Linked DNA regions of Homo sapiens: all the other regions are reported to be linked to region 3. The links are microRNA targets in miRTarBase. Many come from high-throughput screens and were not tested one by one. Region 3 holds a microRNA gene; each other region holds the end of a gene's coding sequence.
Evidence for each region. Region 3 holds the annotated microRNA hsa-miR-583 (CAAAGAGGAAGGUCCCAUUAC, at 1,983-2,003, shown strand). A microRNA usually pairs through its seed, bases 2 to 8, with sites in the 3' UTR of a target mRNA and lowers its output. Matches are read on the target gene's strand: a 7mer-m8 pairs with bases 2 to 8, a 7mer-A1 pairs with bases 2 to 7 and ends in A, and an 8mer does both.

Region 1 (3,362 bases), not on the chromosome of region 3:
CGCAACGGAGGTGAGCGTGCTTGCGGGCGGCAGGCCCCACCCCGGAAGCGCATGTCTGCGTTCCGGCCGCAGCCGTCCCCCGCCCACCATGGCGGACGCCGGCTCGGATGGTTCTCTGCTAGCTTGCCGTTCGCGTCGCGCCCCTCCCTTCAGATTGACTTTTTTCTTTCCTCGTAAGCACCAGTAAAGGTTATTCCCACCTATTTATAACCGTGGTGTAGCCACTTGAGTCACTTCCTTCTGCCACTGTTTTGCAGTCCAGAAAATTAAAATACTTCAGTATTATCCAAATCACCTTCTATATACACCTCAATCAAGCACTTGGACTAAATTTGGCATTTGGTTTCCCTTTAAACAGTTTTAGTCCTTTACGGTGATTTGTAAGCCCAGGCCTTCTTAACTAGGCAAATGCTGCCGCCAGGTGGCCTAGGCCTAACCCCAGAGCCGTTGTCTTGACGCTTAAGCTTCCGGGGAGGGGGGCGATAGGCTTCGTGACTAGGGTAGTGGTATGGTCACTTTAAATATTGCAGTGGCTTCCAAAGGGCAGTCCCCAGCCAGCAGCATCTGCCTCACCTGGGAATGCACTAGAAATAAACCAAGGGGCCCTGACATGTCTTAAACCCTCCTGGTGTCAGAGAAAACCACGTACGTGCAATTTCTTCCAGGGGCCCCTTCTATGGGTTCATCAAAACAATGAGACTTGTGACTGTTATTATTAAGAGACTCATGATTAAATTGCAGGTTTCTGATTTTGCAGTTTCTATTTAAATAGGTCGAGACCTTAAGACCTACCCAGAAAGTGGAAAAGTGGTATACCCAGACTGAGGAAGTTTGATTCCAAAGTCCATGATTTCTTATACCAGCCTCAGTTACGAAAACCTTTAAAGAGGTTCAGGGAAAAAGGAACAATCTACATTTCACTGTGAGACTACCAAACTACTACCTGATTAAGAGGGGTAACAGCTTAGCAATTGAGTTAATGTAATTCAGGAGTAAAGTTTTATCATTAGTAAAGTGCTGTACCAGGTTCAGGAAATAGTTCTTCTTTACAAGTGTATACAAGGGTTTAAAAAAAGGCCAGCTAGATAGTAATTAACTGCAAAGCTGGGTACTACTGCCAGGTGTTTTCCACATTCAGGAACTCACACCAGGTAAAAGGCCTATACGCAAATAAATAAAAAGAGAGAATGGGGAGAAAAATCACATTTATTAGTTAAGACGACCACAGGCTGGACACAACACACATGCTAAAAAGTGGACTGTCTTTTAAAACTTCCAAGGTAAATAGGTAAATGTTTTCCACAGCCCAACAATCATTTCAGTGTTTACAAATTAAAAGGCCCACGGTTAAGACATTAAACAGTAAAATATGTAATAAATGCTCCAACCTACCCTCTCCCCCGAAAGCTGCTTCTAAGTTTAAAACCATGAATTTGACTAACCATGCCATTGAAAACCATCCAGGTTACTACAGGCTGAATTAGTTTTCAATGTCTAAGTCCTAGAAATATCACTCCCTATCCCAGCCCTAGCAAATTCTAACTTTACATTTGACATAAGGCATTAACATCAATTAAAGCCTCAGTTTAATAATCAGAATTTAAATGAAGTCTCCTGAAGACCTCTCTTCTGGCAAAAAAAAACACGTATCAGACTCTGGGAAAACATTCAGACCCACTTCTAGCTATTACTGAAATAAATGATTAGAAAGTTACGTTGGTGAGCCGAAGTTAAACCTAAAGCTATCCCCTGGATCTTTCTAGCAATAAACCCATGTTGAACCTACCATGAAAACTTTCATTCACTGTGCTTTTGGTTACGTTGCCTCCTGATTAGTCATTAATTTTAATGAGGTTTTTTCCTTGTGTTGAGTATGAATAGACCTTACAGTTTGAGGATCTCTAGAATTCCCTGAATTATTGGAAAGACATTCATGACTCCCAGTGTGACTAGTTAAGAGCCCCAGGGAGCCTGTGAAGACTAGAATCTACAAGTAACCTGCACTAAGAACGAAATTCAGTAAAGGAGACTCAAGCTTAGCTCCTGGCCATCTTAAAGGGCTAATGTATGTCTTTCACAGGTTTGTTCAACATTTCAGTAATTCACAGTATAGCCAAGAGCATGAGTATAAGTCTCTTGAAAAAGCCAGTTATTTGGAGCTTTTTAAATTATAAACTTTGAAAAAGTCACCCACGTTCTCACACTATATAGATGACTTTGTATCTATTTTACTATTTTCTCATTTAACCATACTAGCAAATAAGGAAAAAGGCTATTAAATGACTCCCCTGATGCTGGAAGCTGACAAAGCTTTTATGCAATTTAGCCTGTAACTAAAAATTCACCTGTATCAATTCATTCTGACTCCTGCAATATGAATAGCTCATTATAAAGAAGGGCCTTCTGATTCCCCCTGCCTCCCAAATTAAATAAAAAGGAACAGTCATTTGTTTTCATGGAAAAAAAAAACCAAACAAAAACAAAAAAAAAACCAGACCATCTTAAGCAAAGTTTTACATGACATTATATAAAATAAAGTACAATTTCCACTTAATTCAGTCTTCAAATATTTTTTATTGGAAGGCCATGCATTGCCTTCATTTATTGTATTTCAAATCACTGTACATTTACTTTTGTGAAAACACTGCCTGCATTTTCTAGTACAAAAAAAACCTAAAAATTGTTTCAGGAATGTAGAGAAATATCCAACTTAAATAGCGAAAAAGTGCACCATAATTACTGCTGCACTGCAGTCATTTCTGCAATTCCCATGTTTCTTAAATAACTATCTTGTCAGATAACACACAATATAAAGAGCAATTATGAAAAACAGACATTTACATATACTTCTAAAGTCTTATTGGGAATATCCTGTTGGCATTGGATAACCAATCATAGGTGCAGCTGCAGTAGCAGGATATGCATATGCCTGTTGGTTCATACCATTGTGCATATTTGGAACATTACTTCCGTATTGCTGAGTGCTATCATAACCATTCTGGTAAGTCCCTGTTGGATTACCAGTCCTAAAACTGGTCTGTATACCAGCAGACACAAAATTACTTCCAAAGCTCCCATTGGTGTAATTTGCAGCACTGTAAACACCATTCTGAGTTTTTGCCCCAAAATCTCTTTTAAGCAGGCTAGAGTAACCTCTGTCATAATTTTCCCTGTCTCTAAAGGTATTAAATCCACCCCTTTTGCCCGCAGAGTATCTGTCCCGACGGTCATCCTTCATGCCTCCTCTACCCCTGGAACGACCTGTCAAGAAAACAATTGCAAATTGATCAATTATGTCTATGACACAAATCATTGTGGACAGAAAGAAACAGATCTATTCATGGTAGGCGTGAAATGTTTTT
Region 2 (3,000 bases), not on the chromosome of region 3:
GGGCCAAAACTGGAACCAAGGATTTAATAACTATTATGATCAAGGATATGGAAATTACAATAGTGCCTATGGTGGTGATCAAAACTATAGTGGCTATGGCGGATATGATTATACTGGGTATAACTATGGGAACTATGGATATGGACAGGGATATGCAGACTACAGTGGTAAGAATATTTAACTTAATTTTATAAAGCAGTGGTATTAAAATTCATTGTTAACATACAATCCTGTTCTGAAATTGTGTGTATGGGCTTTCCATTAAAGTGTTCGGAGTTAAGTGTTTGAGGCATGTTACAATCATAGGATGATTATACTAACATAGACTGGTGGTTATAAATGAACTAGGATGTATGATTTATGAGTAGCATCTAATGGGTGCTAAAATATCTTAATACTTTTTATTTAGCATGCAAAGATTTGTAGATTTAATAGTTTGTGTTTGTAAAGAAAGTTTTGTAGAAAACTATCTTAATGAGAATTCTGTGTTTTCAAAATAGGCCAACAGAGCACTTATGGCAAGGCATCTCGAGGGGGTGGCAATCACCAAAACAATTACCAGCCATACTAAAGGAGAACATTGGAGAAAACAGGTGTGTATAAGAGTACAGGAAAACAGTAGAAATGTCTAATTTAATTTAAAGATCAATAGACAAATGAAACGTAAAAACAAAATACTATGTAGCCTGTTTTTACTAAATTGTTGATTTTTTAATTGCTTTATGAGCCTGTTTTGCCTAAAGTGTCTATAGATCTTTAACTTTAAAGTCTTATCTCACTTTCTTTAGTATTGCAGAAAAACTTAAGAGTTTTTCTGTTTGCTTTTGTGTACCAGGTGGTCTAGAGGAATAATTAAACATTTTAGAACTATTAACAGGTAAAGTACTGAAATGGGTACAACTTAAGGAAAACAAGAATGTTGTCTTCTAACTCTGACATTATACCTTGTTTGTACCCGCCAGCGGGAACTTCATTGCAGGCCGTGTGTCACCCTGACCACGTCTATCTCTGGGGGTCGCACGTTGCGGGCAGAGCGCAAGGCATACACCAGAAAACGCTGTCCTGTGGTATGGTCTCTTCCAACTTCATGTACCAGCGTAAAGATTAAAGTGGAAAACTTCAGACTTTGGCTTCATTTTTAATCTTTTTGGAGATTAAGTGTCTAAACTTAACTTAAATGGTTTTTTACAGGAGTTAAAGTACATAAATGCCTTTTTACAGCTTAATCATTTTGGTCTTCTGTTTAGTGTTGTATTTCAATTGTGGAGCCTCATTTTAAGTGTTCATTCTTTTAAGATTTAATGCTTGCTTTTTCTTTTTATAGCTAATAGTGAAATCTACAAACCAAAACAAGAACTTTTAAATCTGGGATATAAATTAAAGATCATATGCACAGATCAATTTATGTTCTTGTAATAAACTTATTAGAAATTGGTGTTTGTGATAGCATTTTACTTGGGTTACTAGAGATGCTTCTAGTAGACCTTAATCTAGCATAGTTGAACCTCTGAATATGGGAAGGTTGTATTCCCAGATTCTTTCCTGAATAGATTTGAATTTAATGTCATTTGGGAACTCCAGGGTGAGTTTATTGACTACCCAAACTGTATTTTACCAATAAATATGCATATGATCTTTAATTATTGAAGAAAATAAAGTGAGGACTTAAAACAATTCATGAAAGTGGACCTTTAAAAGCTTGTCAGAGTTGCACAAATCTAACTGGTATTTTGTTTTTGTTTTTAGGAGGAGATGTTAAAGTAACCCATCTTGCAGGACGACATTGAAGATTGGTCTTCTGTTGATCTAAGATGATTATTTTGTAAAAGACTTTCTAGTGTACAAGACACCATTGTGTCCAACTGTATATAGCTGCCAATTAGTTTTCTTTGTTTTTACTTTGTCCTTTGCTATCTGTGTTATGACTCAATGTGGATTTGTTTATACACATTTTATTTGTATCATTTCATGTTAAACCTCAAATAAATGCTTCCTTATGTGATTGCTTTTCTGCGTCAGGTACTACATAGCTCTGTAAAAAATGTAATTTAAAATAAGCAATAATTAAGGCACAGTTGATTTTGTAGAGTATTGGTCCATACAGAGAAACTGTGGTCCTTTATAAATAGCCAGCCAGCGTCACCCTCTTCTCCAATTTGTAGGTGTATTTTATGCTCTTAAGGCTTCATCTTCTCCCTGTAACTGAGATTTCTACCACACCTTTGAACAATGTTCTTTCCCTTCTGGTTATCTGAAGACTGTCCTGAAAGGAAGACATAAGTGTTGTGATTAGTAGAAGCTTTCTAGTAGACCATATTTCTTCTGGATTGTAATAAAATTGTTAGTAGCTCCTTTTACTTTGTTCCTGTCTCTGGAAAGCCATTTTTGAATTGCTGATTACTTTGGCTTTAATCAGTGGTCACCTAGAAAAAGCTTTGTAATCATAACACAATGAGTAATTCTTGATAAAAGTTCAGATACAAAAGGAGCACTGTAAAACTGGTAGGAGCTATGGTTTAAGAGCATTGGAAGTAGTTACAACTCAAGGATTTTGGTAGAAAGGTATGAGTTTGGTCGAAAAATTAAAATAGTGGCAAAATAAGATTTAGTTGTGTTTTCTCAGAGCCGCCACAAGATTGAACAAAATGTTTTCTGTTTGGGCATCCTGAGGAAGTTGTATTAGCTGTTAATGCTCTGTGAGTTTAGAAAAAGTCTTGATAGTAAATCTAGTTTTTGACACAGTGCATGAACTAAGTAGTTAAATATTTACATATTCAGAAAGGAATAGTGGAAAAGGTATCTTGGTTATGACAAAGTCATTACAAATGTGACTAAGTCATTACAAATGTGACTGAGTCATTACAGTGGACCCTCTGGGTGCATTGAAAAGAATCCGTTTTATATCCAGGTTTCAGAGGACCTGGAATAATAAAAAGCTTTGGATTTTGCATTCAGTGTAGTTGGATTTTGGGACCTTGGCCTCAGTGTTATTTACTGGGA
Region 3 (3,362 bases):
ATAAATAACATTATATTGACATCTTAACATATATACCTTTTTATTTTATTATTCAGTTGAATTACTTTTTCATGAATAAATTCTCAGAAATGTTATAATGGTTAAGATTACGAACATCTTTAGGGTTCTTGCTATTTATTGACAAATACTTTTTAAAGTGTATATAGCATGACTGTATAACTTTCTCTGCAATTTTATGTATATTTGGTATTATCATTTATTTGCTTTAATTTGCATTTCTTTGATTATTAGGCAGATACACATTTTTCTTTGTGGATTTTATTGTTTTTGCTAGTTGTATTTATTTGCATGTGAATTCTGTGGTATCGTCTGGATATTTGATCCACCCAAACTTCATGTTGAAATTGTGGGGCTGCTTAGGTCATGGGGCCAGATCCCTCATGGATAGATTAATGCCCTTCCTGATGAGGGGAGGGAGTTTGTAAGTTCTCCCTCTATTAGTTCCTGAAATAACTGGTTGTTAAAGGGTCTGACACCTTCCTTCTCCCTTTCCTGCTTCCTTTCTTGCCATGTGATACTGCACACACTGGCTCCCCTTCTCCTTCTACCATGAGTGGAAGCAGCTTGATGCCCTCACCACAAGCAGATGCTGGTGCCATGCTTCCTGTACAGCCTGCAGAACCATAAGCCAAATAAACCCCTTTTCTTTATAAATTATCCAGCCTCAACATAAGATGAACTAACTTGTTTAATCTGTTTTACTATTTCTGTAAGGAACAGTACACTTTGACTACTGGATAGCTGGATTACCTATGCTATAGTAATCTTCAGACCAGGAACATTAGAACATTTTTTTCTTAGGTGAGATTTATCTGAAACCATCTCACTACATTTTACATTTAGCAGATGTAACTATTAAATTGGTATAATAAAGAAATTATCCTGCTTCTTGCTGTGCCCTCACATGGCAGAGGGAGAGAGAGCACAAGCTCTCTTGTCTCTTATGATAAAGGTACTAATTCCATCGTGACAGCCCGACCCTCATGTCCTTATCTAAACCTAAATACCTTCCAGAGGCCCCATCTCTAGACACCATGACATTGGGGTTTCAACATATGAATTTTGGGAGAGACACAAACATTTAGTTCTTAACACTCCCCTTCTCCCTCAGGCCACTTCAGTCTACCCAAGTACACAGCCTCCTAATTAAGGGGTACTTGGTGATTCTTAAAGACAGGGGTAAATTTTCATGAACATCTGATCAAGCTTTTTTTTTTTTTAGACGGAGTTTTGCTTTTGTTGCCCAGCCTGGAGTGCAATGGTGCAATCTCAGCTCACTGCAACCTCCGCCTCCCAGGTTCAAGCAATTCTCCTGACTCAGCCTCCCAAGTAGCTGGGATTACAGGAATGTGCCACCACGCCCGGCTAATTTTTTCATATTTTAGTAGAGATGGGGTTTCACCATCTTGATCAAGCTTTTAAAAATTGAATTAATAGGTATAGAACACAATGAAACAAACCAAGAAAGAACAAGTGGAAAGAAAGTAGTTAGAGCACTTAATGTCAAGTTAAATCAATCACTAAGCATAATTTGTCTTGTGGGTATTGATGATGGCATGTGGTATGTGTTGAGATTTAAGAATGTATTTCACAGTGACATGGATGGAGCTGGAAACCATTATCCTTAACAAACTAACACAGGAACAGAAAACCAAGTATTGCATGTTCTCACTTATAAGTGGGAGCTGAATGATGAGAACATAGGGACACATAGAGGGAAACAACACATACTGGGGCCTTTTGGAGGGTGCTGGGTGGGAGGCAGGAGAGGATCAGGAAGTATAATTAATGGGTTCTAGACTTAATACCTGGGTGATGAAATAATCTGTACAACAAAACCCCATGATACAAGTTTACCTATGTAACAAACCTGTATATGTACCCATGCACTTAAAGTTAAAAAAAAACCTATTTAAATGATAGGAAGGCTGTTCTTTACATCTTACAACTCACACATTAACCAAAGAGGAAGGTCCCATTACTGCAGGGATCTTAGCAGTACTGGGACCTACCTCTTTGGTACTTTCCCCTGGGCCCCCTTCATTTCACTCCCTACCCACACTCTTTGTCCTGAGCTCCCACTTACCAAATGGCATCAGGCTTGTTACTCATTTGGCTATTTTCTCTTGTGAGTCAGGAATGATTCAATATCCTGGCAAGGGTTAGGAAGGCTAGTCTTTTTAAAGAGCTCTCTTATAGGTAAATACAAACATGATAACTTGGGTGTTTGAAACCACTTTTAAGTATGTTTTTTACTAATTCTTAAGGTTGAAGAGATATCTTGGGATAAAAAATTGCATTAGTTGACAATTTAAAAAATGTAGTTTGTAAAGTCTGAATAACTCTTATTTGTATATGGTAAAAAGTGTAAATTACAAAAAAGATATACAATGAAAAATGAATTTCCTTCTCATTTCACATCCCTAGTTCTCTCTGTCTCCCCTTCAGAGGCAACCACTACTAATTACTTGCTAGCACCCTTCCACAAACATTCTCTACGTAATCAAACTTCAATATTGTTTATATAGCAACCTTTAAGAATCAATTAGGAACATACTATATACATCTTGGTTATTATTATTTTTAACTTAACCATGTTTTGTTTCTTAGAAATTTTTCTATATCAGCACAAATAGCTTTATCCTATTCTTTTAAATGGCCCTATGATGAGGATATGCCTTAATTTATTAAAGTAGTCCTCTAATAATAGGTATTTAGGTTATTTCTAGTCTTTTAAAAAGCAAACCCCACTGCCTGAAAAGCCTTATATATACATATTCGTGCATTTGTGTGGTTTTGTAAGTATATTTGTAGTATATCTATAGGTTGAATAACAGCATGAAGAGAAATATGATCTTGTAGTGGTTAAAAGCATAATTATTATGGGTTTGACTGCCTGCTACTGGCCTACGACTTATTAGCCATATAACCTAGGACAAGTTACTCAACTTTCTGTACCTCAGTTTTCTTATCTGCAAAATGGGTATAAATAATAGTATATACCTTGAAGAGGTGTTATGGGCATTAAAGGACCTAACAGAAGTACATCATGCTGATATCCACATATAATACATTCTACATAAATTATCTCACTAGGATACTTTCCTGGAAAACAGGACTTTCTCTTTTAAAAATATTAATGCTATCATTGGATGATAACTGTTTTTCTTCTTGAAACTTGACAAAATCTCACTACTAAGCTTATTACAAATACTGATATAATTCATGCTCATTTTGGCTTGAAGGAGATAGTTTGGCAGGGCAAATTGAGAGTAAAGTTCCTGACCATAGGTATAAGTGAAAGTCTGAATTTAGTCTTAATTTGTTTTTGAACATTAGAT

Region 1: miRTarBase lists DDX5 as a target of hsa-miR-583. Seed matches in the 3' UTR shown: 7mer-A1 at 2,811-2,817.
Region 2: miRTarBase lists HNRNPDL as a target of hsa-miR-583. The part of its 3' UTR that is shown has no 7-base or 8-base seed match.

The regions. Positions count from the first base shown.
Region 1 is chr17:64,497,066-64,500,427 of GRCh38, forward strand. It overlaps DDX5 (DEAD-box helicase 5), which reads right to left. Exons shown (of 13, transcript NM_004396.5): 13 at 1,189-3,261. The coding sequence ends at 2,858. It also overlaps a transcript of MILR1 not described here. Among named protein-coding and RNA genes, the nearest start is that of POLG2, 1.7 kb to the left of the region's middle. RefSeq lists enhancers at 1-25, 127-266.
Region 2 is chr4:82,423,630-82,426,629 of GRCh38, reverse strand. It overlaps HNRNPDL (heterogeneous nuclear ribonucleoprotein D like), which reads left to right. Exons shown (of 8, transcript NM_031372.4): 6 at 1-167; 7 at 501-593; 8 at 1,747-3,000. The coding sequence ends at 571. Among named protein-coding and RNA genes, the nearest start is that of HNRNPDL, 5.3 kb to the left of the region's middle.
Region 3 is chr5:96,077,171-96,080,532 of GRCh38, forward strand. MIR583 (microRNA 583) reads left to right here and starts at 1,968; the gene lies at 1,968-2,042. The region is part of intron 1 of LOC101929710 (a long non-coding RNA gene); the gene reads left to right. It also overlaps a transcript of CAST not described here.